4 linked regions of the Homo sapiens genome follow. The protein of the gene in region 1 purifies or fractionates together with the protein of each later gene. This does not show direct contact. Each region holds a gene or a part of one and is shown in the gene's direction. Other genes may lie near its edges. The genes, in order: DDX23, EFTUD2, PRPF3 and AAR2.

The links.
Region 2: the proteins of DDX23 (region 1) and EFTUD2 purify together in Homo sapiens (affinity purification with mass spectrometry; 8 studies listed by BioGRID and IntAct, with this or other methods). This does not show direct contact.
Region 3: the proteins of DDX23 (region 1) and PRPF3 purify together in Homo sapiens (affinity purification with mass spectrometry; 4 studies listed by BioGRID and IntAct, with this or other methods). This does not show direct contact.
Region 4: the proteins of DDX23 (region 1) and AAR2 purify together in Homo sapiens (affinity purification with mass spectrometry; 5 studies listed by BioGRID and IntAct, with this or other methods). This does not show direct contact.

Annotation. Positions count from the first base shown.
Region 1 is NC_000012.12:48,849,161-48,856,462, reverse strand, and holds the start of DDX23 (probable ATP-dependent RNA helicase DDX23), read left to right. Parts: upstream 1-4,299; 5' UTR 4,300-4,379; exon of another isoform or gene 4,380-4,413; intron 4,414-4,648; exon of another isoform or gene 4,649-4,742; intron 4,743-7,302. UniProt on the Homo sapiens protein: Involved in pre-mRNA splicing and its phosphorylated form (by SRPK2) is required for spliceosomal B complex formation.
Region 2 is NC_000017.11:44,849,418-44,854,445, reverse strand, and holds the end of EFTUD2 (116 kDa U5 small nuclear ribonucleoprotein component), read left to right. Parts: intron 1-89; coding exon 90-177; intron 178-810; coding exon 811-929; intron 930-1,055; coding exon 1,056-1,150; intron 1,151-1,883; coding exon 1,884-2,037; intron 2,038-2,628; coding exon 2,629-2,736; intron 2,737-3,076; coding exon 3,077-3,172; 3' UTR 3,173-4,049; coding exon of another isoform or gene 4,050-4,114; 3' UTR 4,115-4,498; downstream 4,499-5,028. Other genes in the region: HIGD1B (HIG1 domain family member 1B), read right to left, coding at 4,050-4,114. UniProt on the Homo sapiens protein: Required for pre-mRNA splicing as component of the spliceosome, including pre-catalytic, catalytic and post-catalytic spliceosomal complexes. Component of the U5 snRNP and the U4/U6-U5 tri-snRNP complex, a building block of the spliceosome.
Region 3 is NC_000001.11:150,324,521-150,331,550, forward strand, and holds part of PRPF3 (U4/U6 small nuclear ribonucleoprotein Prp3), read left to right. Parts: intron 1-374; 5' UTR 375-422; coding exon 423-567; intron 568-1,230; coding exon 1,231-1,361; intron 1,362-3,036; exon of another isoform or gene 3,037-3,132; intron 3,133-3,799; coding exon 3,800-3,946; intron 3,947-5,931; exon of another isoform or gene 5,932-5,978; intron 5,979-7,030. UniProt on the Homo sapiens protein: Plays a role in pre-mRNA splicing as component of the U4/U6-U5 tri-snRNP complex that is involved in spliceosome assembly, and as component of the precatalytic spliceosome (spliceosome B complex).
Region 4 is NC_000020.11:36,232,527-36,239,507, forward strand, and holds the start of AAR2 (protein AAR2 homolog), read left to right. Parts: upstream 1-3,951; 5' UTR 3,952-3,977; exon of another isoform or gene 3,978-4,256; intron 4,257-4,355; exon of another isoform or gene 4,356-4,511; intron 4,512-6,981. UniProt on the Homo sapiens protein: Component of the U5 snRNP complex that is required for spliceosome assembly and for pre-mRNA splicing.

The DNA of each region.
Region 1 (7,302 bases):
GGTGGACAGACTAAGCCAAAGCTGGGGGAGGCTCCTGGGATTCTGGTCTCCTCTGAGTTCAAGGAGAGGTGACATTTGCCTTCATGACCTTCCAATTCCGATGCCTACTGATGGCAGCTCAGGGGCCTTAACTCTTAACTTCCTTTCTCAGTGACTTATAGCTCTTGTTTTCCAAGTGCCATAGTGTAGTGCTAGTGCCAGAAATAAAGTTAGCATGTACTAGGCCAGGCGCGGTGGCTCAAGCCTGTAATCCCAGAACTTTGGGAGGCTGAGGCAGGTGGATCACAAGGTCGGGAGATCGAGACCATCCTGGCTAACACGGTGAAACCCCATCTCTACTAAAATACAAAAATTAGCCGGGCATGGTGGCACGTGCCTGTAATCCCAACTACTCGGGAGGCTGAGGCAGGAGAATCGCTTAAACCCGGGAGGCAGAGGTTGCAGTGAGCCAAGATTGCGCCACTGCACTCCAACCTGGGCAAAAGAGGGAGACTCCATCTCTAAATAAATAAATAAATAAATAAAGTTAGCATGTACTTAATGAGTGTTCAGCACTGTGCACTGTGTTGAGGGCTTTACATGATCACATTTAGACTCATAAATGATAAGAGCTAACATTTGTTAAATGTTTACTATGGGTCGGGGCACTTACGAGATTTTTCTTTTTTTTTTTTTGAGACAGGGTCTCACTCTGTCGCCCACGCTGGAGTACAGTGGCATGACCACTGCTCACTGCAACCTCACCCTCCTGGTTCACCGTCCTGATCACCCTCCTGACCCTCCTACCTCAGCCTCCTGGGTAGCTAGGACTACAGGAGTACCACAGTAGTAGTCTATTTTTTGTGGAGATGGGGTTTCACCATGTTGCCCAGGCTGGTCTTGAACTTCTGGGCTCAAGTGATCCTCCTGCCTCGGCCTTCCAAAGTGCTGGGATTACAGGCATAAACCATGGTGCCCGGCCCCACTTACGAGTTCTTTCTATGTTATTTATTCCTGTGATAACCCTATGAGCCTATGAGGTGCTATTTTTTTTTTTTTAGACGGAGTTTCACTCTGGCTGGAGTGCAATGGCACGATCTTGGCTCACCGCAACCTCTGCCTCCTGGGTTCAAGTGATTCTCCTGCCTCAGCCTCCCAAGGGACTACAGGCATGTGCTACCATGCCCGGCTAATTCTGTTTTTGTTTGTTTGTTTGTTTGTTTTTTTAGTAGAGACGAGGTTTCTCCATGTTGGTCAGGCTGGTTTCGAACTCCCGACCTCAGGTGATCCACCCACCTTGGCCTCCCAAAGTGCTGGGATTACAGGTGTCAGCCACGGCGCCCCGCCGCTATCTACTTCATTTTACAGAAAAGAAGACCGAGGTTCAGAGAGATTAGGTAACGTGCACAAGGTCACACAGCTAGGAAGTGGTTGAACATGGATACAAATCCAGGCAATCTGGCTTCACATCATGCACTCTAACTTGCTCTGCTGTCCTGTCCTGTGAGGGAAGTGGTATTATTATCTCTGTTTTGTAATGAGGAAAGAGAAAAGCCAGAGATGCCATATAATTTGCACAAGATCACAGTACTAGTAAGCAATTGAGCCAAGATTCAAACCAGAACTCACTGTTCACCAAAATCCCATGGACCCCTTACTGGTAGGCATGTTGTACCTAAATAGGTATCTCCAGTTATGGTTCTTACTAGAACACCATCCCTCTGTCTCTGTCTCCAAAGATGATGGTTTAGGTGTGGTGACTGGTGCCTGTAGTTCTAGCACTTTGGGAGGACGAGCCGGGCGGATTGCTTGAGGCCAGGAGTTTGAGACCAAACTGGACAACATTGCAAGACCCTGTCTCTACAGAAAGTAAAACGATTAGCCAGGCATGATGGGGTGCACCTGTGGTCCCAGCTACTTGGGAGGCTGAGGCAGGAGGATCACTTGAGCCCAGGTCAGGGCTGCAGTGAGCTGTTTGTGCCACTCCACTTCAACCTGGGCAACAAAGTGAAACCCGGTCTCAAAAATAAATAAGTAAATAAGCCAGGTGTGGAGTCTCACGCCTGTAATCCCAGCACTTTGGGAGGCCGAGGCAGGTGGATCACGAGGTCAGGAGATCGAGACCATCCTGGCCAACATGATGAAACCCCGTTCCTACTGAAAATACAAAAATTAGCTGGGTGTGGTGGCATGTGCCTGTAATCCCAGCTACTTGGGAGGTTGAAGCAGGAGAATCGCTTGAACCAGGGAGGTGGAGATTGCAGTGAGCCGAGATTGCACCACTGCACTCCAGCTTGGCGACAGAGCGAGACTCCATCTCAAAAATAAATAAATAAATAAAATAAAATAAAAATACAAACAAATAAGAAAACAAAGATTCATGTTTGTGAGAGAACTAGTGGGGCAAGACAAATAACAAGTATCCTTGAAGCCCAATGTCTTACATGTGTCATGAGATGTGCGCACAAGTACTAGAGGAACTCTGCCACTATGAACTGGGACAAGCTTTATCACCCTCCAGGAGCTCAATTTAAAGAGAGTTGAGATGGCAGCCTGAAAATGGGGAAAGGTAATGGACTCTGAAGTTAAATGAACCTGAATTTTGGCTCCATTCTTTTCTTTTCTTTTTTCTTTCTTTCTTTTTTTTTTTTTTCCAGTCAGGGTTTTGCTCTGTCACCCAGGCTGTAGTGCAGTGGCACGAGCATGGCTCACTGCGACCTCGACCTCCTGGGCTCAAGCAGTCCTCCTGTCTTGGCCTCCCAAAGTGCTGAGATACAAGCATGAGCCACCTCACCTGGCCCATTCTTTTAACTATGTGGCCTTTGAAGGCATAATTACTCTTTCTGGGCCACAATCTCCTTACCAGTAAAATGGAGATAGCACTCATCTCATACTGCTATGAGAACTAAGTAAAACAAATAAGGTAGGTTAAGTGTCCAGCCCAGAGCTGAGCACTTAGAAGATTCTCAATAAAAAGTGGCTGCAGTTTTTGAAGATTCTGGCCTACCATGGTTGGTCTGATTCTTAGTTTAATCTGTGAATCTGTGAGTCGAGCGCCCTCTCGTGCTTTTGTGGTGAATTACACCTAACAGATCTCAGAGCTCTCTTCTTTCCCTTGCGTTCTCTCTGGAGTAGAAGCTGGGAGGTGAAAGGCTGCAGGTTCTAAGAGAAGTGTGTGTCTCCGAGGGTTACTTTGGGCCATTGTACGTGATGCTCAGGGCTTTAGGATTACTTGGGTCTATCCTGAGGCTCTGCTTGAGAGCTTGGGCATATTCAGAGAGAAAAGGCAGACCTACAGCCATGTGGAATTGAAGCAACAAACCTGCTGCTGGCAAAATGGGAAGGGAGGTCCGAGATACTTCTGGTTATCTAAACCGTTTCCGCAACTGCAATGTTTTGTTTTGTTTTGAGGGAAAGAGTTATGAACCCATAAGACCAAAGAGAAACACAAAGTGAACTTACGATTTGAGGTTAAAACAACAACAACAACATCAACAACAACAACAACAGCAACAACAAAACTCAGTGGAAGACTGAAGTAGGGGAATCTGGGGGAAGAAAGAAGCAAAAATACCAAGATAGCTCAACAATTGGTCACATTCCAAAGGGCAAGAAATTGAGGAAACCAGGGTTCCATCTGGAATGTTGAGAAAACAGGTGCTAGAGCCCAGGAGATACCATCCTTCCGGGAGGACTTTAGAGCCCATTGTGTGGGCTCATTTGGAGCTGTAACAATAACTGGGGGTTGTTATGGCATTCACCCGGCTGCAGGGGCCAAGGTTGCTAAAACGTCCTCCTAAGCCTGGGATAGTTCCACACACAATGGAGAACTGCATCACCCTCCTTGTGAACCTACTCCGGTAACCTGATCTTTAGTTTGTCCAACTGTAAAATGGGGCTAGCCCCATTCTCACAGAATTATTATAAAAACCGCTTTTCCACGAATGGTATTTATTGTTACTGCGGTTGTTAGCTATAATTACGTACTACAGATATCTCAGGAAGCCCTTAAATTCCTCCACTGTAAGCCACGGGCAAGGACAGTCATAGACCGTAGTTTCTAGGAAGACCAGCCGATTCCAAGAAGGGTGCTCGGCGGGAGAACCTAATGCCGAAAGCCTATTGGCGAAAAACTCTTCCTTCCCGGACGCTAACGTCTGGCAAACCACATTGCCCGGCAGACCCCGCAGCCTGGGGCCGGCGCTCAAGTCATGCATTCTGGGATTGGTAGTTTCCAGGCCTCAGTGTCGGCCTGTGCCGCCCAGCTCCAGGAACTCGCCTTCCCAGCTTGCCTCGCGGCCGGGGGGGTGGGGGGTGTTCATCTCCGCGACCAGGAAACGGGAAAGATGGCGACGGCTCCGCGACGTTGAGGCCGCGTTGGGCGGTTCAGACTCAGGGTGGTGAGTCCCGGGCGGTGGAGGCGGTTCCCACGAGCTTACAGAAAGGGCTAGAGTCAGGGCACGGCGGTGGCCCCTGCCTCCTGGATGAGGCGGGAAAGAACGCCTCAGAGAAGGGGCATGAACCCGGGAAGCTCGGGCGGGCTGGAGTGAAGGGGCGCGGGCCCCAGGGGTAGTGTTGGCTCCTCCGGGCACAGGCCACGTCCCTGCACGATATTTTCCTCCCAGGACTCTGCCTATGGGCACAGCGCCTCTGATACCCCCAGTCTGACCTTATTCTTTCATGCTTAAAGTAGCCTTTGGTGCAGCCAAACTGGAACTCTGGCTTTTCTCTCGCAGTCAGTCCATGTTTTCCCGCCTCTGCGCCGGCCGTATTATTTCTTTTGCCGGGAATGACTTCTTTTCCGCGTCCTTAATTACATATCTTAAAATTCTACTTATACTTAAAAGCTCAAGCGTCACTTCCTCTTCCAAGCCTTCCACATCACCTTTTACAAGTGAAAGGAAACGCCTTTGAACACCTGTATTACTACATCTGAGCCTTGATACTCTTCTTGGTATGTGTCTCATACCCCCTATTGTTCTTTTTTTTCTTTTCTTTTCTTTTTTTTTTTGAGACGGAGTCTCGCTCTGTCGCCTAGGCTGGAGTGCAATGGCACGATCTTGGTTCTCTGCAACCTCCGCCTCCCGGGTTCAAGCGATTCTCCTGTCTCAGCCTCCCGAGTAGCTGTGATTACAGGCGCACGCCGCCACGCCCGGCTAATTTTTTGTATTTTTAGTAGAGACGGGGTTTCACCGTGTTCCCCAGGCTGGTCTCGAACTCCTGAGCTCAGGCAATCCACCTGTCTCGGCCTCTTAAAGTGTTAGGATTACATGCGTGAGCCACCGCGTCCGACCTCATAACCCTGTTGTTCTAAACACTTCCTGTGAACAGAATTTATTTTTGTAACTCACATAGCACCTAGCACTGTGCCTTGCGTACAGTAGATGCTTGTTAAATACGTCATTGAGTGAAAAAAAAGAATGTGCCCCTGCCCTGCAAGAACTGAGGACCTGAAGATCTGGAGGTTTGAGAGGAAGGCTGCTGGGAAGCATGGCCAGAGTCAGCCTGGTTATTTGGCCCTTGTGATAATAGAACCTGTAATAAAAGTTGCCTGTATTTACTGTCTTCTTCTCATTTTTCATTCTCTTCCAAACTCATTCCACTCAGGCTTCCATTCCCGCAATGCAACTGAAACAGCTCTTGTCAAGGTCACCAATAATCTCCATTTTTCCAAATTCAGTGGTTACTTCCCTGTCCCTTATTCCCTCTCCACTTCGGTGGTACTTGACACAGTTGACCCCTCCCTCCTTGAAACATGTTTTTGGCTTCTTCGTTGCCATGCTTTTCTTTGTCTTTTCTCACTGGCTGCTAGTTCTTTTCAGTCTTTTTCTCTGGTTCATCCCGTGGCTAACTCCTGTTAAAGTGTTCCAGAGCTCAATTCTGGAGCTTCTTCTCTATTTTTTTTCTTTCACTATGCTGCCTACTTAGGTAATATCATTTAGTGTCCCATGGCTTTAAAAGCTATCTGTGTATTGGTGACTCAAGTTTTTGTCTACAGACCCTCTCCCCTAAGTTCAGATTTGCATTTCTCTTTGCCTTCTGGGAATCTCCACAGATATTCTCACACTCAACCTGGCCAAAATGAAACGTTTGATTTCCTCTTAAATCTGTTCGTTCCCTAGTCTTCTCCAGTTTGTTTGCTATGGCACCACAAACTATTAGGTTGCTGAAACTATAAATTTAGGAGCTATCTTTGTGTCTGCTCTTTCTGCTTCTTCCTTAGTAAGTCCTGTTAGCTTTGCCTCCAAAATATACTCTGACGCTGCCTACTTCTTTCCATCTCCATCGCCACGTTCCTAGAACAAGCCACTGCCATCTCTTGCCTAGAGTACCATAATAGCACTCTCAGTGGTTGTGTTTTCACTCTGTCTCTCTGCTATATATTTTCTTGCAAGTCACCAAAGTATTAGATTGCTTCCTGTTTAAAGCTCTTCTAAGATCCCCATTGCAGTTAAAATCCAAGTTAACTCTACTCTGACCTGTAACACATTTTCATTATCTGACTCCTGCCCAGCTCACTGAACTCATCCTGAATCAGTATTCCTCCTGCATTAGTGCTTCCCAGGGTCAAGAAGTCTTTCCACCTCAGCCTGGGCTCAGGTGATCCTCCCCAGGCAGGAGCGAAGGGGCATGGGCCCCATAGGTAGTATTGGCTCCTGGGGGCACAAGCCGTGTTCCTGGACGATATTTTCCTCCCAGGCCTCTGCCTATGAGCTCTTGAGCACTTTTGAGCTCAGGCATTCCACCCACCCTAGCCTCCCAAAGTGCTAGGATTACAAGTGTGAACCACCACACCTGGCTGATTTTTTTTTTTTTTTCTCTCGAGACAGAGGGAGTCTTGCTCTGTCACCCAGGCTAGTGCAGTGGCACTATCTCGGCTCACAACAACCCGCACCTCCTGGGTTCAAGCAGTTCTGCCTCAGCCTTCCGAGTATCTGGGATTACAGATGCCTGACATCACGCCTGGCTAATTTTTGTATTTTTAGTAGAGACGGGGTTTCACCCTGTTGGCCAGGCTGGTCTCGAACTCCTGACCTCATGATCTGCCTATCTCAGCCTCCCAAAGTGCTGGGATTACAGGCGTGAGCCACTGCTCCTGGCCTCCGGCTGATTTTTAACTGTTTATAAATGTAAAATTTTATTGTTCAAAATAGACGGGAAGTCTTGCTATATTACCCTGGCTGGTCTCGAACTCCTGGGCTTAAGTGATCCTCCCGCCTTGGCCTCCCAAGGTGCTGGTACTACAGGCATGAGCCACCAGGCCTGGCCAAACAAATATGTTTTTAACTGACAAACGTGTAGTTGGGCTCACACCTGTAATAC
Region 2 (5,028 bases), on another chromosome or scaffold:
ATCCCCTTACAGGCACATCTGTCTTCTCCCTCTAAATGCTTCAGCCGTTGCCAGGGCGACTGCTAAGGAGGCCTCATGTTTCTCTATAGGTGGACAAGGCTCTTCTTGGTTCAGTGAAGGACAGCATCGTTCAAGGTTTCCAGTGGGGAACCAGGGAGGGCCCCCTCTGTGATGAATGTAAGTCCACCAGCACTCCCCCACCCCAGTCCTCGAGGGTCCTTGCAGCCAGGCATATGAGTGGGATGGGCTCACCATCTTTAGGATTCGGCAGGAGAAGCAGCTTGGGGTACACAGGACCATCCCAAGTCCTGGGCCAGCTTCTTCCCTTTTCCTTCCTTATCCTGGTGGTGTAGCCTGGAAATGGAAATTTAAGTCATTTCTAAACTGTCATTTGCTCCTCATTTCTGAGAAGGGTTTGGCGTTGGACGTATTTGAGAAGAGATATCAAGAGGATGATGAGATTGGAATGGTTTATAGACCCTGATTGGGCTTCATGGACCAAATGTACAATTCTGGAATTTATTCTACATCCACAAAAATGTAAATATGTGCAGAAGAAGGAAATAAACTTCTAGGAAAGCTCTAAGTCTGAGCATGGCCTGAAGCAAACACTAAGAACATATGCTTAACTTCTGACCTCTGCCATGGGCCTTGCTTATTCAGTTAGAACGCCCACCTCCCATTTGATTTCTGTACCATGTCTTTCATGACTGCAAGACAGCTGCAGTGTTGCAGGAGACTGCTACTCTGCCATGGCCCCATGACAGGCCCAGAACCTCTCCCCAGTCACTCCCTCCACCTCCTTTACAGTGATTCGGAATGTCAAGTTTAAGATCCTGGATGCGGTGGTTGCCCAGGAGCCCCTGCACCGGGGCGGGGGCCAGATCATCCCCACAGCCAGGAGAGTCGTCTACTCTGCCTTCCTCATGGTAAGAGAATGGGGCGGTAGGGGACCATCTGCTTCACTGGACAGGGGACTAAGTGAAGGAGCAAGTGGGACTATAGGCCCCCAGCCTTCCCCAAGCTGAGGGGCCTTTCTTCTTGCTCTGCTGCAGGCTACTCCTCGTCTGATGGAGCCTTACTACTTTGTAGAGGTCCAGGCCCCTGCAGATTGCGTCTCTGCAGTTTATACCGTCCTGGCCAGGCGCAGGTGAGCGGCCCCAGGCGTATTAGGGAGAGTGCTGAGAGCAAGAGCAGAACAAGAGTCACCTCGGCTCCTACAGGGAAGAGAGGTTGGCCTTCTCTACCCTCCTCTCTCTGGAAACCCCGAGAGCTGATTTTCCAGAAAGAAGTAGGAGCGGAGGGAGGCAAGCCCCCGCTTTTCTGCAGATTAAAATTTGACATTTCTCCATCCTGGCTAACACAGTGAAACCCCGTCTCTACTAAAAATACAAAAAATTAGCTGGGCGTGGTGGCGGGTGCCTGTAGTCCCAGCTACTTGGGAGGCTGAGTCAGGAGAATGGCGTGAACCCAGGAGGCGGAGCTTGCAGTGAGCCGAGATGGCGCCACTGCATTCCAGCCTGGGCGACAGAGCAAGGCTCTGTCTCAAAAAAAAAAAATTGACATTTCTTTTGGGATCCCCTCCTCACAGAGCTGTTGGAGGCAGTGCTGAGGCAAGTCAGTGATGGGAATGTCTTTGGGCCCTTGTCCCTTCACCATCCCACTCCTGTCCTCTGCCCAGAGGTTGCTGCCACTTTGACTTCCACAGGGAATTATACTGAGAGCCCTGAGCCTTTTCTGCTTTTTGTAGAACATTCTTGGTTACTCTTTCTTTGATGGTAACTCTGGGCTGGAATGCATTTGGGGGACAGCAAATGCTGGATTGCTTCTTGGCTTTTGGCCTATGTTTGACTAGAGGCTCAGCCTTTGTTTTTCTGTCTCAGGGGGCACGTGACTCAGGATGCACCCATCCCAGGCTCCCCTCTGTACACCATCAAAGCTTTTATCCCGGCCATCGACTCTTTTGGCTTTGAGACTGATCTCCGGACTCACACCCAGGGACAAGCCTTTTCTCTGTCTGTCTTCCACCACTGGCAGGTGAGAAAGCAATGCAGGCTGGCGGACTTGGCTTCCCACCTCTGCAAGCCTCATCCCCTTCTGTCCTGATCCCTCTCCAAGCCCTAAGTGAGGTGTACAGCATCCTGGAGAAGAGTCCTCCTCTGGGGAGCATATATTCAGGGCAACTTGAATCTGTGTCTCTCAGTTTAAAAAAAAAAAAAGAAATAATAGGGCCGGCTATGGTGGTTCACACCTGTAATCCCAGCACTTTGGGAGGCTGAGGCGGGCAGGTCACCTGAGGTCAGGAGTTCGAGACCAGCTTGACCAACATGCAGAAACCCCATCTGTACTAAAAATATAAAATTAGCTAGGCGTGGTGGTGCATGCCTGTAATCCCAGCTACTTGGGAGGCTGAGGTAGGAGAATCGCTTGAACCCGGGAGGCGGAGGTTGCATTGAGCCGAGATCATGCCATTGTACTCCAGCCTGGGAGACAAGAGCGAAACTCCATCTCAAAAAAATAATAATAAGTAATAAATTTAGGAATAAAATAAATAAGAAGAGTCCTGCTTCTGGGCCTGAATCTTCTGGGAATTCTGCCTGGGCCATCTGAAATTCCTTTGCCTTTTAGATTGTGCCTGGTGATCCCCTGGACAAGAGCATTGTCATCCGCCCCTTGGAGCCACAGCCAGCTCCTCACCTGGCCCGGGAATTCATGATCAAAACCCGCCGTAGGAAGGTATGTCTCCCTTGGGCCTGTTGCCATCCCTCAACCCCCCAGGACTCTCAGAAGCAGGATCTCTCTCTCTTTCTTTTGGCCCCTTTTCCTAAGGGACACTTTTCCAATGTAGAGATATGATCTGTATACTCCTTAGGCAACCAAACCTGGGCCCCAGTCTCGTTGGGAAAGGAGAGCCTTATCCTCCCATGTGATAGTACCCTAAAGGCAGGGCTCCTGAAACACCACCACCTACATTCCAGCCACCACTAGCCTCCCCACTGAACACAGGTCTTGGATAGTCTCCTTGCTTAGTCTGCGACCACCTCGGGCTTTCTTATATTTGCCCCATTCCCTGCAGGGCCTCAGTGAAGATGTGAGCATCAGCAAATTCTTCGATGATCCTATGTTGCTGGAACTTGCCAAACAGGATGTTGTGCTCAATTACCCCATGTGAGTGCGTGGACTCCTGGGAGCTCCTGCTCCCTACAGTGGGCTGCAACTCCTGTACTTGAAGCTGAGACCTCATATGACGTGGCCTTCGTGTTGTCAGAGAGTGTCTGGAAGCTGCTGTTGCCATCTTGAACAACTCACCAACCTCCAACCCAGAGCCCCAGTGAGAGAGGAGCATTTGGCCTCCTGCTTCCTTCTGTGGCCTCTGCCGGGCTCCATTCCCAAGGAAAAGAGAGGAGCTTGGGCTCACAGAAAGAGAAGGGGATGAAACCCCAAGGGGCCCTATCTTTGGGATTTACATGGAATTTTATTTTCTACAAGTTTGACCTTAGCCATGGTTTGCAAGTGAACAGAACATTCTGACCTCTGTCTTGCTCTGCTCCTTTCATCCTCGTCTCCCCTGCCCCGTCTGGTGCTTACATTCTGAATATATGTCATCTCCCAAGAGGCTTCACTGCCTCTGCTTCCAGCTGCAGCCTCCTTCCTGCCTGGGTCCCCAGGGAAGCCGCCTGCCTTTTAATTCAGTGTTCCCATGAGCGCCAAGGCCCCATTATTGCCCCCTTGCTCCCACTCCATGCTGCTTCTGGGTGGAACCTAAGATGGCTTGGGAGTTGTTGGGTTCCTGCGATCAGAAGTCTACCCCACCACCTCCTCAGGAAACTGCTGCCTCCCCTAAGAATCTTCCTTGCCCTGGAGTAGGGGGCCAGAGCACTTTGATTTCCAGCCATTTACTCCAAGTCCTCTCCCCAGCTACCACCAGTCCCTTACTCTGTTCTCCCCCAGTGAAAAAGAGTCTGTTGATTTTCCTCAAAACTGCTTTATTAGGAATGTACCAGGGATTGAGTTAGGGGAGTTGGACAGCCCCGGCTCCTATAGGAGTCCTACTTCTCTCCAGCATCCTGTGCCATCCTCTTGACGTAATCGCTGTACATTGTGTACACAGCACCTGTGTGAGAGAAAAGAAATAATGCCCCTTGGCATCAAACCCTTCACCCGTCCTCTGGCTCTCAGGCGTCCTAGGGGTTCACCTCTAGCTGCTCCCTTGAGAGTCCAGCTTCCCGCTCATCTTTCTGCCCCAGGTCCCAACAGCTGCTTCAAGCATCTGACCACACAACCTGGGGAAACCACTTATCTGACAGTTCACGAAACACTTTCACATGTATTGTGTATCTGAGAAACCTCACAGCAGCCTGCAAGGTAGGCAGGCCAGGGGTGGTTATTGTCATGTTACACATCAGGAAACTGAGGCTCAGTGAGAAAGATTTGTCCACTGTCACACAGTTAGCAAGTGGCTGTCTGCTTTTTAATCTCAAGAGGAAGAGAAATTCAACATCTGTTCTGTTGCATGATTTTTCTCACCCCTAGGGCAAACTGTCATGAGACACTGTCCCCACAGGCCTGGGACAGGAGCCTAAACAGGGAAGATGGCTCAGTATAGGGGCTTCACCAAGCATGTGATGTGGAGCCCAGAACAGGAGAACTTAATTCACAGTCCTTTTTTTTTTTTTTTTTTTTTTTTGAGACAGAGTCTCACTCTGTCACCCGGGCTGGAGTGCAGTGGCGGATCTCAGCCCACTGTAGCCTCCGCCTCCCAGGTTCAAGCAATTCTCCTGCCGAAGCCTCCAGAGTAGCTGGGACTAAAGGCACCTGCCGCCACGCCCAGCTAATTTTTGTATTTTTAGTAGATATGGGGTTTCACCATGTTGGCCAGGATGGTCTCTCTCTCCAGACCTCATGATCTGCCCGCCTTGGCCTCCCAAAGTGTTGAGATTACAGGCGTGAACCACCGCGCCCAGCCAAGCACAGTCCTTTTAATTGTTGGGACTTAAAGACCTACAAACTGCATAATCGGTTTTGCCC
Region 3 (7,030 bases), on another chromosome or scaffold:
TGATGTACTAACCATTTCCCTGGATCACTTTAGTCTTTTTTTTTTTTGTAGAGAGAGTCTTGCTTTGTCGCCCAGGCTGGAGTGCAGTGGTGCGATTTTGACTTGTTGCAAGCTCTACCTCCCTGGTTATTCCCCTGCCTCAGCCTCCCAAGTAGCTGGGATTACAGGCACATGCCACCACGCCCAGCTAATTTTTTTGTATTTTTAGTAGAGGCAGGGTTTCACCATGTTGGCCAGACTGGTCTCGAACTCTTGACCCCAGGCAGTCCATCCACCTTGGCCTCCCAAAGTGCTGGGATTACAGGCATGAGCCACTGCACCCAGCCCACTTTAGTCTTTTCTTATTCTCTAACTTGTCTCTTTTTTTTTTTTAGGTGTAGTATTGAGTCCTGTTTGAGCTATTGTTCTCTTTTTCCTGAAAAATGGCACTGTCAAAGAGGGAGCTGGATGAGCTGAAACCATGGATAGAGAAGACAGTGAAGAGGGTCCTGGGTTTCTCAGAGCCTACGGTGGTCACAGCAGCATTGAACTGTGTGGGGAAGGGCATGGACAAGAAGAAGGCAGCCGGTATGTACCTTTCTGCATCTTTTATCTTAACATATAGGGTGACCCCAAACACTGCTTTGAACTTCCTCAAAATTCTCTCTGTTGGGAACATCTAAAAAAATGGCAGGCCATATTTTATTTTCACCTGTATTATAGTGAAAATAGGCTAAATAATAATTTGCTTTTTCTCTTAATTGCTTATTTTTTATGTTATTTATGATAGATTTTAAATCTTCGTTTGGCTACCATACTGAGTCACCTAAGTTAGATTTACTTAGGAAGTATGCTTAAGTCAGATAGGCATATTCAGATTCAGACTGAACATCTCAACATACAAAAATCTTTATGAAATACATGAAAAAGCTTGAAGGAGGTAGATTTTGTTAATGGTAGGCTTCTACAACTTGCTATTTGGGAAAGGTGAGGGTGGTTATTCATCTCAAACTTGATGTTCAAGGTAAACAGGTTGCTCTAACTGCACCACTTCCCACGCCAAAAAATTATAACTATTTTCACCTCACAGGGCAAGGTCATTTAGTGTAAGAGAGATGGGAATCCTACAAAAAACTTAAAATTTGTTTCACTCCTGGGAATAAAATTCCAGTGTTGGTACCTGTTATAGGCCTAGTATTAGACTGTGTACTCTTACCTTTCCAACCCTACCACCGCCTTTCTTCCTGTCAGATCATCTGAAACCTTTTCTTGATGATTCTACTCTCCGATTTGTGGACAAACTGTTTGAGGCTGTGGAGGAAGGCCGAAGCTCTAGGCATTCCAAGTCTAGCAGTGACAGGAGCAGAAAACGAGAGCTAAAGGTAGGTTACAATTTACTGTCTAATGAGCTCAGGACTGTTTTGAATGGTAACAGAGTTGCTGAGCTTACCAGTTCACACGTTGATATCCTCTATTTAGAGCAGCAAATGTTCAAGAGAGGTACTTAGACATTAGAGTAGGAGAGATGAATTAGTGTCATCACCATCTGAACTACCTCTAAGTTCATGGGTTGAAATATCCAAAGAAATAATTGGCAGCTTTGTCTTTTTTTAGATAACAGGAGTTTTGATTCTCATGTTTCTCCATATTTCCTTTTTTTCCTTCTTACTGTTACTTATAAACTGATTGCTCTAAGATTTTATCTTTGATTTATTTGAGGCCTAATAAGTTGTTTTAGAATGTGACTCCACTGGTACCTGAGCTGTACACCTCATTGTTGCCTCTTTGTAGAGGTTTCTCTGCAATGCACTTGTAGATAGAATACCAAAAAATAACTATTATTTATTATATTCTTGAGAGCTTACCATTTGCTCTATGGCATATTGCTGGTCCTCTGCTGCCATGAGTGAAACACTTGGAGGAGTTGTCAGTACCCCCTTAACTACTACACTTTTTATTCTGTAGTTGCCGACTGATCCTGGCCTCTTTCAGTATTAGCAGTATCAAGTAGCCTATTTTTCTACTCATTTCCCAGTATCTCTCTTTAGGAGAAAAAAAAAAGTTCTGTGACTCCTATCAAACCTTCCAAAGTTCTTCTGATACCTTGGCTATCCCATTACTTTTCCTGAGGGAAAAGAGTGAATAAGTAATGTCTGCTTGGTCCCCTGGCCAGGCTATGGAACTAAAAAAAAAAGCAGAGAGATTTGTGCCCTTTGTGTTTGGAGCATTGTAGGGTGGTCAGAGAAGGAGAGATAGTCCTTGCCTTAAAACAATTTGTAATTTGTCAGGCAGTGTGGCATGTGCCTGTAATCCTAGCTACTTGGGAAGCTGAGGCAAGAGGATCTCTTGAGCCCAGGAGTTACAATTTAGAAGAGGCAGGGGTATCACAAAATATATATTCACGTATTATAAAATCTAAGTAGCAGTTTCATGTAAATTTTAGGGTTGGTTATAGAATTTCAGACCTATGTTGAATTTTGTTATATTTAAGGTGGAATGATTGATCCACAGTATACACAGATCTGTACAGTGAAGATTATGTCACGATAGGGCATACTTCTTTTTTTTTTTCCTTTTTTTTTTTCTAAGGGTGAGTCTCACTCTGTCGCCCAGGCTGGAGTACAGTAGCGCAATCTTGACTCACTGCAACTTCCACCTCCCAGGTTCAAGTGATTCTCCTGCCTCAGCCTCCTGAGTAGCTGGGATTACAGGCACATGCCACCATGCCTGGCTAATTTTTGTATTTTTAGTAGAGACGGGGTTTCATCATGTTGATCAGGTTGGTCTCGAACTCCTGACCTCAAGATCTGCTCGCCTCGGCCTCCCAAAGTGCTGGAATTACAGGCATGAGCCACTGCGCCTGGCCAGTAGGGCATACTTCTGTATGAGTGCTGAGGGCATGCTGTGAATGAAGTGACTACATTGGGTGGGATTAATAAAAATGGCTTCTTGAAGGAGGTGTCTAGATAGCCTTGGGATACGGGTCCCATTTTTGGTCCATTCAGGTCCCCACCCCACACAATATATTATGGGAGAGTCCTTTTTCTTGAACTGTAGGAGTTCCAGGAAGCGCTCGCCCCTGGCCGAGGATATGTCCTTGCAAAACACGAGCCCTCCTAGTGAAGAGGGGATGTCACCCAAAGCCTACCACCGGTGTGTACATTTGCTTTTTCCCATTGTCCCTTCCAGTTGGCCACTCTCGGTCCTGTTAAATTCACCTTGCAAATTAGTCATCATATTTGAGTTTCCATTGTTTGATGAAAACAAAGTGTTAATGGGGATTACTGAAGAAGAAAGAGAAAGCCCCTGTCCTGGAAGAGCTTAGACTTAGTTGGGAAAACTATACTAACATTGAAATACTTAACACTTGGCAAACAGAATATCAACAATGTAATTTAACCTAATATGAACCAAGCTCTTACACGCTAAGAGAATGTGAAACAAAAGTTTAATCAGAGTGGGATAGGTTATAATGAGGAAAACTTCTTGGAGGAGGTGAGTTTTAGGCAGGATTTGGAACAGGGGTTGTGGAAAAGTTGAGAGAAATCATTATAAATGTGAGCAGTAGCATTTGCAAAGACCTTGAGATGGGAACATTTATAAGAACATGGGAATGAAATTTGTTTGACTGGATTAGGAGAATGTTGAAGTTGGGTGAGATGGAGAGTCTAGTAGACCCTGCTTCTGGCAGGTGGCTATTTGCAAGGTTGTGTCATATTCCCCTGGGAATAGCCAGAAAATGCTGGTAGGGGCTAGGATAATTCTTCCCTTCTCCCCACGGGGAGGGATACAGCTTTTCTTTCATCTTGGGTTCCCTTAGGAGGTGTTTGGTGATGACTCTGAGATCTCTAAAGAATCATCAGGAGTAAAGAAGCGACGAATACCCCGTTTTGAGGAGGTGGAAGAAGAGCCAGAGGTGATCCCTGGGCCTCCATCAGAGAGCCCTGGCATGCTGACTAAGCTCCAGGTTAGTGATTAGGGACTGGAAGCAAAGTGGTTTTGTGAGTTGAAGAAGCAAAAGGTGCATGGGTCTGTATTTATTGTGGAATTTTTTTTTTTTTTTTTTTTTTGAGGTGGAGTTTTGCTCTTGTCACCCAGGCTGGAATACAGTGGCGCGATCTCAGCTCACTGCAACCTCCGCCTCCCGGGTTCAAGCAAATCTCCTGTCTCAGCCTACTGAGTAGCTGGGATTAGAGGCACCCACCACCAAGCCTGGCTAATTTTTGTATTTTTAGTAGAGATGGGGTTTCACCATGTTGGCCAGGCTGGTCTTGAACTCCTGATGTCAGGTGATGCACTCACCTTGGCCTCTCAGAGTGCTAGAATTACAGGAGCGAGCCACTGCGCCCGGCTAATTTTTTGTATTTCTTTTAGTAGAGACAGGGTTTCACCATGTTGGGCAGGCTGGTCTTCAACTTCTGACCTCAGGTCATCTGCCCACCTTCGCCTCCCAGAGTGCTGGGATTATAGGCGTGAGCCAGCGTGCCTCGCCTTATTGTGATCTTGATTTGAATTAGTGTTTAGCATTTGGGGTAAACTTTTTTTTTTGAGATAGAGTTTCACTCTGTTGCCCATGCTGGAGTGTAGTGGCGTGATCTCAGCTCACGGCAACCTCCACCTCCCAGGTTCAAGCGATTCTCCTGCCTAAGCCTCCGGAGTAGCTGGGACTACATGCGAACACCACTACGCCTGGCTAATTTTTGTATTTTTAGTACAGATGGTATTTTGTCATGTTGGCCAGGCTGCTCTGGAACTCCTGGCCTCAAGTGATCTGCCACCTCAGCCGCCCAAATGGCTGGGATTACAGGTGTGAGCCACCATGCCAGGCCAGCATTTGGGAAAATTTTATTTCCTGCTTTATGTTTTAGCGTTCTTTGATTTGACCAGGAGTATTCTAGGTAAGGGTATTGAAATTGCCATTTACTGTGGCAAGCAAAGTGTGTTATGTACATTATTTGCCTAATTACCTATGTCGTTGAGTCATTGAGAAAATTAAATGAAATGATCAGAACTCATCTTAATGACAGAGGAGACTCTCCAAACATAATGCAAAGAAGATATAATCCACTGATAAATAATTTTAAGTTGACTTTATTTTTTTTTAACAGGAAGTATTTGTGTTTTTTCAATTGGCATTGTTAAATAATACCACATAAGTGTTTCTTTTACCATTTAATATTTGAGGGGGGTAATAGAACATATACAGAAATATGGGTGGGTGGATTTGCATATATGTGATATTTACAGAAGGAAAGAAATGGATTTTTTTTGTGTGTGTGTGTGAGATGTTCTCTCTGTCACTCAGGCTGGAGCGCAGTGGTGCGATCTCGGTTCACTGCAGCCTCTGCCTCCCAGGTTCAAGTGATTCTCCTGCCTCAGCCTCCTAAGTAGCTGGGATTATAGGCATGTGCCACCACGCACGGCTAATTTTTGTATTTTTAGTAGAGACAGGGTTTCACCATGTTGACCAGGCTGGTCTGGAACTCCTGACCTCAAGTGATCTGCCTACCTTGGCCTCCCAAATTGCTGGGATTATAGGCGTGAGCCACCGTACCTAGCCTGTTTTTGTTTTTCAGGCAAGGTCTCACTTTTTTGTCCAGGCTGGAGTTCAGTGGCGAGATCTTGGCTTACTGCAACCTCTGCCTCCCGGGCTTGAGTGATCCTCCCACCTTGGCTTCCCAAGTAGCTGGGACTACAGGTCACCATGCCTGGCTGATTTTTGTATTTTTTTTAAAGATTGAGTTCCACCATGTTGCCCAGGCTGGTCTTGAACTCCTGGGCTGAAATGATCCTCCTGCCTCAGCCTCCCAAAGTGCTGGACTTACAGGCGTGAGCTACCACGCCCAGCCAATTATTTTCTTTTTTGGGGGGTGGGGGATGGAGTCTTGCTCTGTCACTTAGGCTGGAGTACGGTGGCGCGTTCTCGGCTCACTGCAACCTCTGCCTCCCGGGTTCACGCCATTCTCCTGCCTCAGCCTCCTGAGTAGCTGGGACTACAGGTATGTACCACCATGCCCGACTAATTTTTTGTATTTTTAGTAGAGATGGGGTTTCACCATGTTAGCCAGGATGGTCTTGATCTCCTGACCTCGTGATCCACCCGCCTCGGCCTCCCAAAGTGCTGGGATTACAGGCATGAGCCACCGTGCCAGGCCCAATGATGTTTTTTATGGAGAATGGGGATGGACGTATTCACAACATATCCTTTTGTTATGTTTCTTTCTTTTTTTTTTTTGAGACGGAGTCTCACTCTGTCGCCCAGAGTGGAGTGTAATGGCGCTATCTCGGCTCACTGCAACCTCCGCCTCCCGGGTTCAAGCTATTCTTCTGCCTCAGTCCCTTGAGTAGCTGGGATTACAGGCACGCGCCACCACGCCTAGCTAATTTTTTTGTATGTTTAGTAGAGACGGGGTTTCACCATGTTGGTCAGGCTGGTCTCGAACTCCTGACCTCGTGATCCGCCCGGCTCGGCCTCCCAAAGTGCTGGGATTACAGACGTGAGCTGCCAGGCCCAGCCTGTAATTTTTCATTTTATTTTATTTTATTTTTTGAGACGGAGTCTCGCTCTTGCACTGTTGCCTAGGCTGGAGTGCAATGCCGTGATCTCAGCTCACTGCAACGTCCGCCTCCTGGGTTCCAGCAGTTCTCCTGCCTCAGCCTCCTGAGTAGCTGAGATTACAGAACGTGCATCACCATGTCCAGCTAATTTTTGTATTTTTAGTAGAGATGGGGTTTCACCCTGTTAGCCAGGATGGTCTCGATCTCCTGACCTCGTGATCCACCTGCCTCAGCCTCCCAAAGTATTGGGATTACAGGCGTGAGCCACCACGCCCAGCCCTGTAATTTTTAATTTTTTTATTTTCTTTCTTTCTTTACTTATTTAGAGATGGAGTCTCCCCCTGTTGTCCAGGCTGGAGTGCAGTGGCATGATCTTGGCTCACTGTAACCTCCACCTTCTGGATTCAAGCGCTTCTCCTGCCTCAGCCTCCTGAGTAGCTGGCATTACAGGCGCCCACCACCACACCCGGCTAATTTTTGTATTTTTACTAGA
Region 4 (6,981 bases), on another chromosome or scaffold:
GGAAGTACCAGGACCTGTTTCAGTTTTTGAATCCTGCAAGCACATTCCAAGACTGGCCTGAAACTGCATGAGCAACATCACTCGAAATAATTTTTTTTTTCAAAAGCACCTTAACAACCAATTGCGATGCTGTCCTGTTCCTTTTTACTCACACCCTTCTCTCCTTTCTCGTCCCCATGCTCCCCCACCTCAGTGCTCCGTGCTGTATGCGTGTGCTCTCTGTTCTTGTATACTCAATATAAGTGAAATAAATGTGTTTGATGCTGAACCATACTTCCTTGGCACCTCTCCTCTCTCTCTCTCTCTCTCTCTCTCTCTCTCTCTCTCTCACTGTCTCTCTCTGACTTTGGCCACTGGTACAAGTTGGCACTGTGGGAGGGGCTAAAACTGAAGTGGAGACATCCCAACTTAGAACATGTTTATGCAACAAATATTTGGAACTCAAGGTGGTCCAGGCCTTGGGTGACTCTCCAGGCACAACACAAACAAGACAAAAGTCCCTGCCCTTCATGAACCCACAGGCTAGTGGAGGAAACAGATGCCAACACAGGCAAACAGTCCGTTACAGAGCACTCAGCACTAGGAAGGAAATACACCGGGAGAAGGGAAGGAGGGTCACTGAAGGAGACCACTTTAAATACAGTGGCCAGGTAAGGCCTCCCTGAGGAGGCGATCTGTGAGCTGAATGAAAAGAAGGATCAATCAACAAAGGCGAGGAACTTTGGTGCACATTCTAGGAGAGGGAACAGTAAGCATACAGGCCCCAGGACGTGGAGGGGCTTATTGAGCGGAGAAACAGCATGGTCCCTCCTCCTGAAAGAAGAGTACCTACATTGGAGTCTCTCTTCCTGTAACCCCCCTACATGGGAGCCTAGTGGGAAAAAATACAGCAATCCTCAACTTCGGCCTTTGCCCAGAACCTCTATATATGTTCCCATATCCTCATACCACCTGTCCCATTATTCACTTATTTTTCTTTAAATTGACTCAGGTCAAGTGCAGTGGCTCACGCCTGTAATCCCAGCACTTTGAGAGGCTGAGGCAGGCAGATTACCTGAGGTCAGGAGTTCAAGACCAGCCTGGCCCACATAGTGAAATCCCATCTCTACTAAAAATACAAAAAATTAGCCGGGTGTGGTGGTGCACACCTGTAATCCCAGCTACTCGGGAGGCTGAGGCGGGAGAATCGCTTGAACCCAGGAGGCGGAGGTTGCAGTGAGCCGAGATCGTGCTACTGCACTCCAGCCTGGGTGACAGAGAGAGACTCCGTCTCAAAAAAATAATAAAATAAAATAACTAACTAAATAAATTGACTCACGTTAAAAGCAAATGCATTTAAAAAGGAAACTATATTACTTCCACAAATGAAAAGCTTATGTTATTTGCCAAGAAAGGAGGTCTTCATAAAATAAATGCAAAAATATTAAAATTAACAACCACAATGCACTTAAAACCTAAACTCATCCCTTGGACCACCTGAGGTGCACACACCACACTTTCCTTTTATTCCACCAAGCAACTCACCTCAGCCCACCTTTATTGCTGCAAATCTCACCAGCGAGTCTTTTCCATGTGTATGTATTTTTCCAGAGTTGGTCATCTTGTACATACTTTTGTAAATACTTTAAAATATATATATGTACATATATGTATATATATGTACATATATATCTATATACACGTATATATATCCTGAGCATTTCCGTATACTTTCAAATACTAAATACTTATTTTCTTTGGAAAGGTAATTCATTAAATGATACAAAGACTATGCAGTGAAAAGTGATTCTTCAGCCTTCTCCAGATTTCTGTCTCTTGTCAGAGGCAATTGCTGCGAGGAACATTATGAATCCTTCTCTGAATTTTCCCTATAGGTCTCCTTTAGCAATCTGTTATCCCTAGGGTTCTGGAATAGGACTTGGTTTACAAACAATGGGTCTTCATATGATTCCTCAGGACCCCATACACCCTGATCCATATTTCTGTCTCCCATAAAGGACCATCCTGACTCGGCTTTTGTCGAATAATCAAAGGTAAGTTCACCCAGATTAGTGTTTTTCAACTGCATTGAGAGTGGGGAAATGACCCCTCCTCCTTTACCCCCAACCCCCGCCCCGGGGACATTTAGCAATGGTTGTCACAACTGAGGGGTGCTACTAGCTCTAGTGGGTAGACGCCAGGGTTGCTGCTAAACATCCTACAATGCACAGGACAGCCACATACAACAAATACTTATCTGGCCCCAAATGTCAATAGTGCCAAGGTTGAGAAATTCTGATCTAAATGGACATGTGACCCACAAGGTGGGACTCCTAGGCCACCATTTACAGCTTCTACAACCAGTGTTCAGTGTCCTGGAGTCTCTGAAAAGACGGTGAGCCCAACTGAAACAGGGAGCTTTGAGACCAGACCATAGAGCTCAGCACTTAAGACTGGGAGTGGGGAGGGGTGGAGAGGGAGCTGAGCTTCTTCATGCAGGAGATGAAACTTGACAGGACAGGCTGAGATTGGTAAGCATGACTGTGACTGATGGAGGCTGTCTCTGGTTAATCCTGCAGCAGCTCATTGTGATTAACCATGACTGCAGGGCCCGGTCTAGTCTGCAACCCACTAAGAGATAAATTTTGACCGAGACAGATTGGCGTGTCCAGCTGTCACTGAGGAAATGTGACAGACAAGCTAAGGAGCAGCAGCACAAGAGATAAGAACAGACAGCCCTTGGTTTGCATTCTAGCTCTGCCATTCTCTGGCTGTGTAACATCTCTTTGAACCTCAGTTTTCTCTTCTGCAAATTGGGAATACACATACCTTACAAGGGTTAGTGCAAGGATTATAAATACCCAAGTGGGCCGGGCACGGTGGCTCATGCCTGTAATCCCAGCACTTTGAGAGGCCAAGGTGGGCAGATCACCTGAGGTCAGGAGTTCGAAACCAGCCTGGCCAACAAGATGAAACCCCGTCTCTACTAAAAATACAAAAATTAGCCAGGCACGGTGGTGGGCGCCTGTAATCCCAGCTACTTGGGAGGCTGAGGCAGGAGAATGGCTTGAACCCAGGAGGTGGAGGTTGCAGTGAGCCGAGATAGCGCCATTGCACTCCAGCCTGGGTGACAGAGTGAGATTGCGTCTCAAAAAAAGAAATACCCAAGTGGCCTGCCCTAAAATCACATAAGCCAATTCTTGGCAATAAATCACTTAATATAGATCTCCTACTGGCTCTGTATCTTTGGTGGAACCCTGATTAATAGTGCAGGGTTAGACCCACAAATAGTTATTTATTAATACCAAATTATCATCATTATTAATTAAATGCATAATATATGTACTCAGCTGAGCTTTTGTGCCTGGCTTTGTGCTCGGTTCCAGGGAAACAGTGAGGAACAAGACAGGCAGATTCCTTCCCTAGTGCGTTGATAGCCTGACTGAGATGTTAGGACTTGGCCTGCAGGAAGGACACGGGGTGATAATGGCCAGAGGGACTGAGGTGGCGACCGCTGCTGCTGCAGCAGCGGAGGCTGACGCTGGTTCTCTCTGGGCTGGTGGCTGGGTTTCTGAGGCTCTCCCCGAGGGCTGAGTGTGACTGGAAGCTGAGACACTGTGACCGGGATAGAGACTGGCTGACAAAGACAGTGACCGAGCGCCTGACTGGCTACTTCTGAATAGTAGCCACTGGTACAAGCCTTGGCTGTGCTTTAGTGACCATGACTGCTTGAGCCCAAAGTAAGATGGCTGGTGGCTGTGTTTCTGGACGGGGATATAAAATGCATAGGTTAATGAAAGTTGTTCACAATTCAGAAGCTAAAACGAGAAACTAAGAATAACAAAAGGCAACCTTGCATCCGGCGGAACCTGCAGGCACGGGCCATTCTTCCCGCGACCCAGGGCTCTGCCGGACCGCTTCCCCCGTCGCTCCAGTCAGACGCCAAAGCTGGAGAACTTCCGGTGCGTTTCCGCTGTACCGGAACGTGGGGCGAGGCGGTGAGTGTGGCCTCCTGGCCTCTTTTTCCTTTCCTGATTCCTTGTGTATGTGTGGCTGGGCCGCCCCTCTTCTCGGCTCAGAGTCACGGAGTGCCTTGAACTAGGCCCACCTCGCCGGGGCGGCTGGTTCTCTGTTTGTGGGACGCTGGTGTCTCTGGAGGCCCTTCCTGAGAAGCCGTCGCCAGAGTTACGTCGCGGTTTTCTTAACTTTAGAGCCTGGGGGCCGGAGACCCTGATTGCACTCGACCTGGCTCTGCCCTACTCTCTGCGTGACTTCCAGTAAGGTCTTTCCCCGAACTGAGGCTTTGTTTCTCGTTTACAAAATGGATATCATACTTGTATTAAATAAATGTTTACTAAGCGTTGAATCTGTGCTAGGGATACAGCAGGACTCAAGTCTCGTGGCGATGACAGCCTTCAATCAAACATCCAAAACTGCAGTTGTGATCATTGAGACGGAAAGGTACAAGGCACCCCAGATTATATCACAGGAGACCTGACCTAGCCCCAGGGCAAGGAACCTTTACTGAGGAGGTGAATATTGAGCTGAGATCAGAAAAAAGGATTTGACAAAGTGGGGAGGGAAGAGTTTTCTATATGGAGACAGCCTCCAATTTCAGGTTCTGAAAGAGGCCGTTGTGGCTGGAACAGAGAGCTTGTGGGGGACCATTGTGTGACACAAGCTAAAGGGGTTGCCAGGAGTCAGACCGTGCAGGCTTTGTAGGTAATAGGAAGAATTCTGGTTTTTCAAGAACCATATGGGAAACCACTCAGAAGCTGACATGGGTGGTGTTGTGATTAGATTGGCATTTTGAAAAGGTTACTGCTGTTGAATGGAGAATGGGTTGAGGAGCAAGCACTCTGAGTGAGGGACGATGGTAGCTTGGATTAGGGAGGTGGTGGAGAGAAGTGGATGGATGTGACTTTAGGTGTTCCAGGACTGTGAGGAACTCACAGAGCTGTCAGTGACAGGGGCTGGTAGACTGCAGAGTTCTATGCATATTTAATAAACGTTTTCCTAGCATCTCCTCTGTGCTAGGCCCTGTGCCAGCTGCTGGAGATATAGTGAATAGAATTACAGACTGGTGGAATTAGCATGAAAGAAACGTCATTATCAAGGAGGAGCACACAGATGTCACAAGGGAAAATGGCTAATTGATGAGCTGTTATTGTAAATGGAATATCTGTTCATTCAGCAAATATTAAATACTTTCTGAATTCAGGATTACAAATAGGAAGATGATACGTATTATTATTATTATTATTATTATTATTATTATTATTATTATTATTATTTTGAGACGGAATTCGCTCAGACCCCCAGGCTGGAGTGCAGTGGTGTGATCTCAGCTCACTGCAACCTCTGCCTCCCAGGTTCAAGCAATTCTTCTGCCTCAGCTTCTCAAGTAGCTGGGACTACTGGCGCACACCACCATGCGCGGCTAATTTTTTTTGTATTTTTAGTAGAGATGGGGTTTCACAGTATTGGCCAGGCTGGTCTCAAACTCCTGACCTCATTATCCATCCGCCTCGGCCTCCCAAAGTGCTGTGATTACAGGCGTGAGCCACCACGCCCGGCCTGTTGATACGAATTATTTAGAGCAGAGTCTTTCAAACTTTTATGACTGTGACCTACAGTAACGAATACATTTTATGGCACAACCAAGTATACACACAAACACACAAAGCTCCAGAAAACAGTACTTAGCTTTACTACTCATGATGTATTGTGATATTTCAAAAATTCTGTTATTTTCGTTTAAAAAATAATGCTGGTTGAGACCTTCACATTGATTTCCTAATCCACTAATGGATTGTGACTTGCAGTTTGGTGAAACACAAAGTGCTGATTCAGGGTAAGAGTCATTTGTGGTGGTTTTGAGGTAACAATGATAAAATGTGCTCTTATTTTTGGAAAAGGATTGGTCTTCCTTTCTGCACTGCTTTATTTAAAGTAAAAAGGGTAAACAGGGCCAGGCATGGTGGCTCACACCTGTTATCTCAGCACTTTGGGAGGCCGAGGCGGGCAGATCACTGAGGTCAGGAGTTCCAGACTAGCCTAGGCCACATGGTGAGACCCTCTCTGTACTAAAAATACAAAACTTAGCCAGGTGTGGTGGCACACACCGGTAGTCTCAGCTGCTTGGGAGGCTGAGGCACAAGAATTGCTTGAACCCGGGAGGTGGACGATGTAGTGAGCCGAGATCACGCCACTGCACTCCAGCTGGGGTGACAGAGCGAGACCCTGTCTCAAAAAAAAAAAAAAAAAAAGTAAACAATTAAACAGGCAGCTCGTTTTTCTGTGTGTGAAATTTTGACGTCTTGGCTAGATTGGAATTGCCTAGAGGGCAGTGACTGTCTTAATCTGTGATGTTTTTTGGGGGCCTGGCAAAGATCCTGGCACAATGCAGGCACTCAGTGAGTATTTGTTAAATTAGTCAGGTAGGTATCTTAGGACTAGAAGGTTGCATAATGGTTTGTTTACATTTGTTCATGTTGGTACCATTCTTGCCGATATCCCAGAGGCAATGTCTGGGATATTCAGAAGTAGGTAAAATAAGTGTACTAAGCTCTTTCTCTTCTGGCCAGCTTTCTCTTCCTAGGCTAGCTTTACCACCTGAATTCATTCTGGATGAATGGTCCAGAGCCACCACTGATTGTGGGCTCTTTGGGAAGTTGTTTCACTCCCTGGAGTTTAGGTTTTTTATGAGTGAAAGAAGAGGGGAGATTTGTGGTAGGAAAGCTCTCTAGACCCTGAACAAACTTTAGATGCTGAGCCTCCACTTGCTACCGTCTGTCCATTTCTGGGCCTTCCCTGAGGCTTATGGGAAACTGGATATGTACTTGATTTAATCTTTCCAAATCTTTTGGGATAGTTTTTTGGCAGAATTGTAGTTTTAAATGATGTAGGCATATAGTTTAGAGTGACCTGTCCAGGCATTTTCCACCCTCACCCTCTGTTGTGAGAAAGAGATCTGAGAAGATATTAAGAATGGACGGTGGA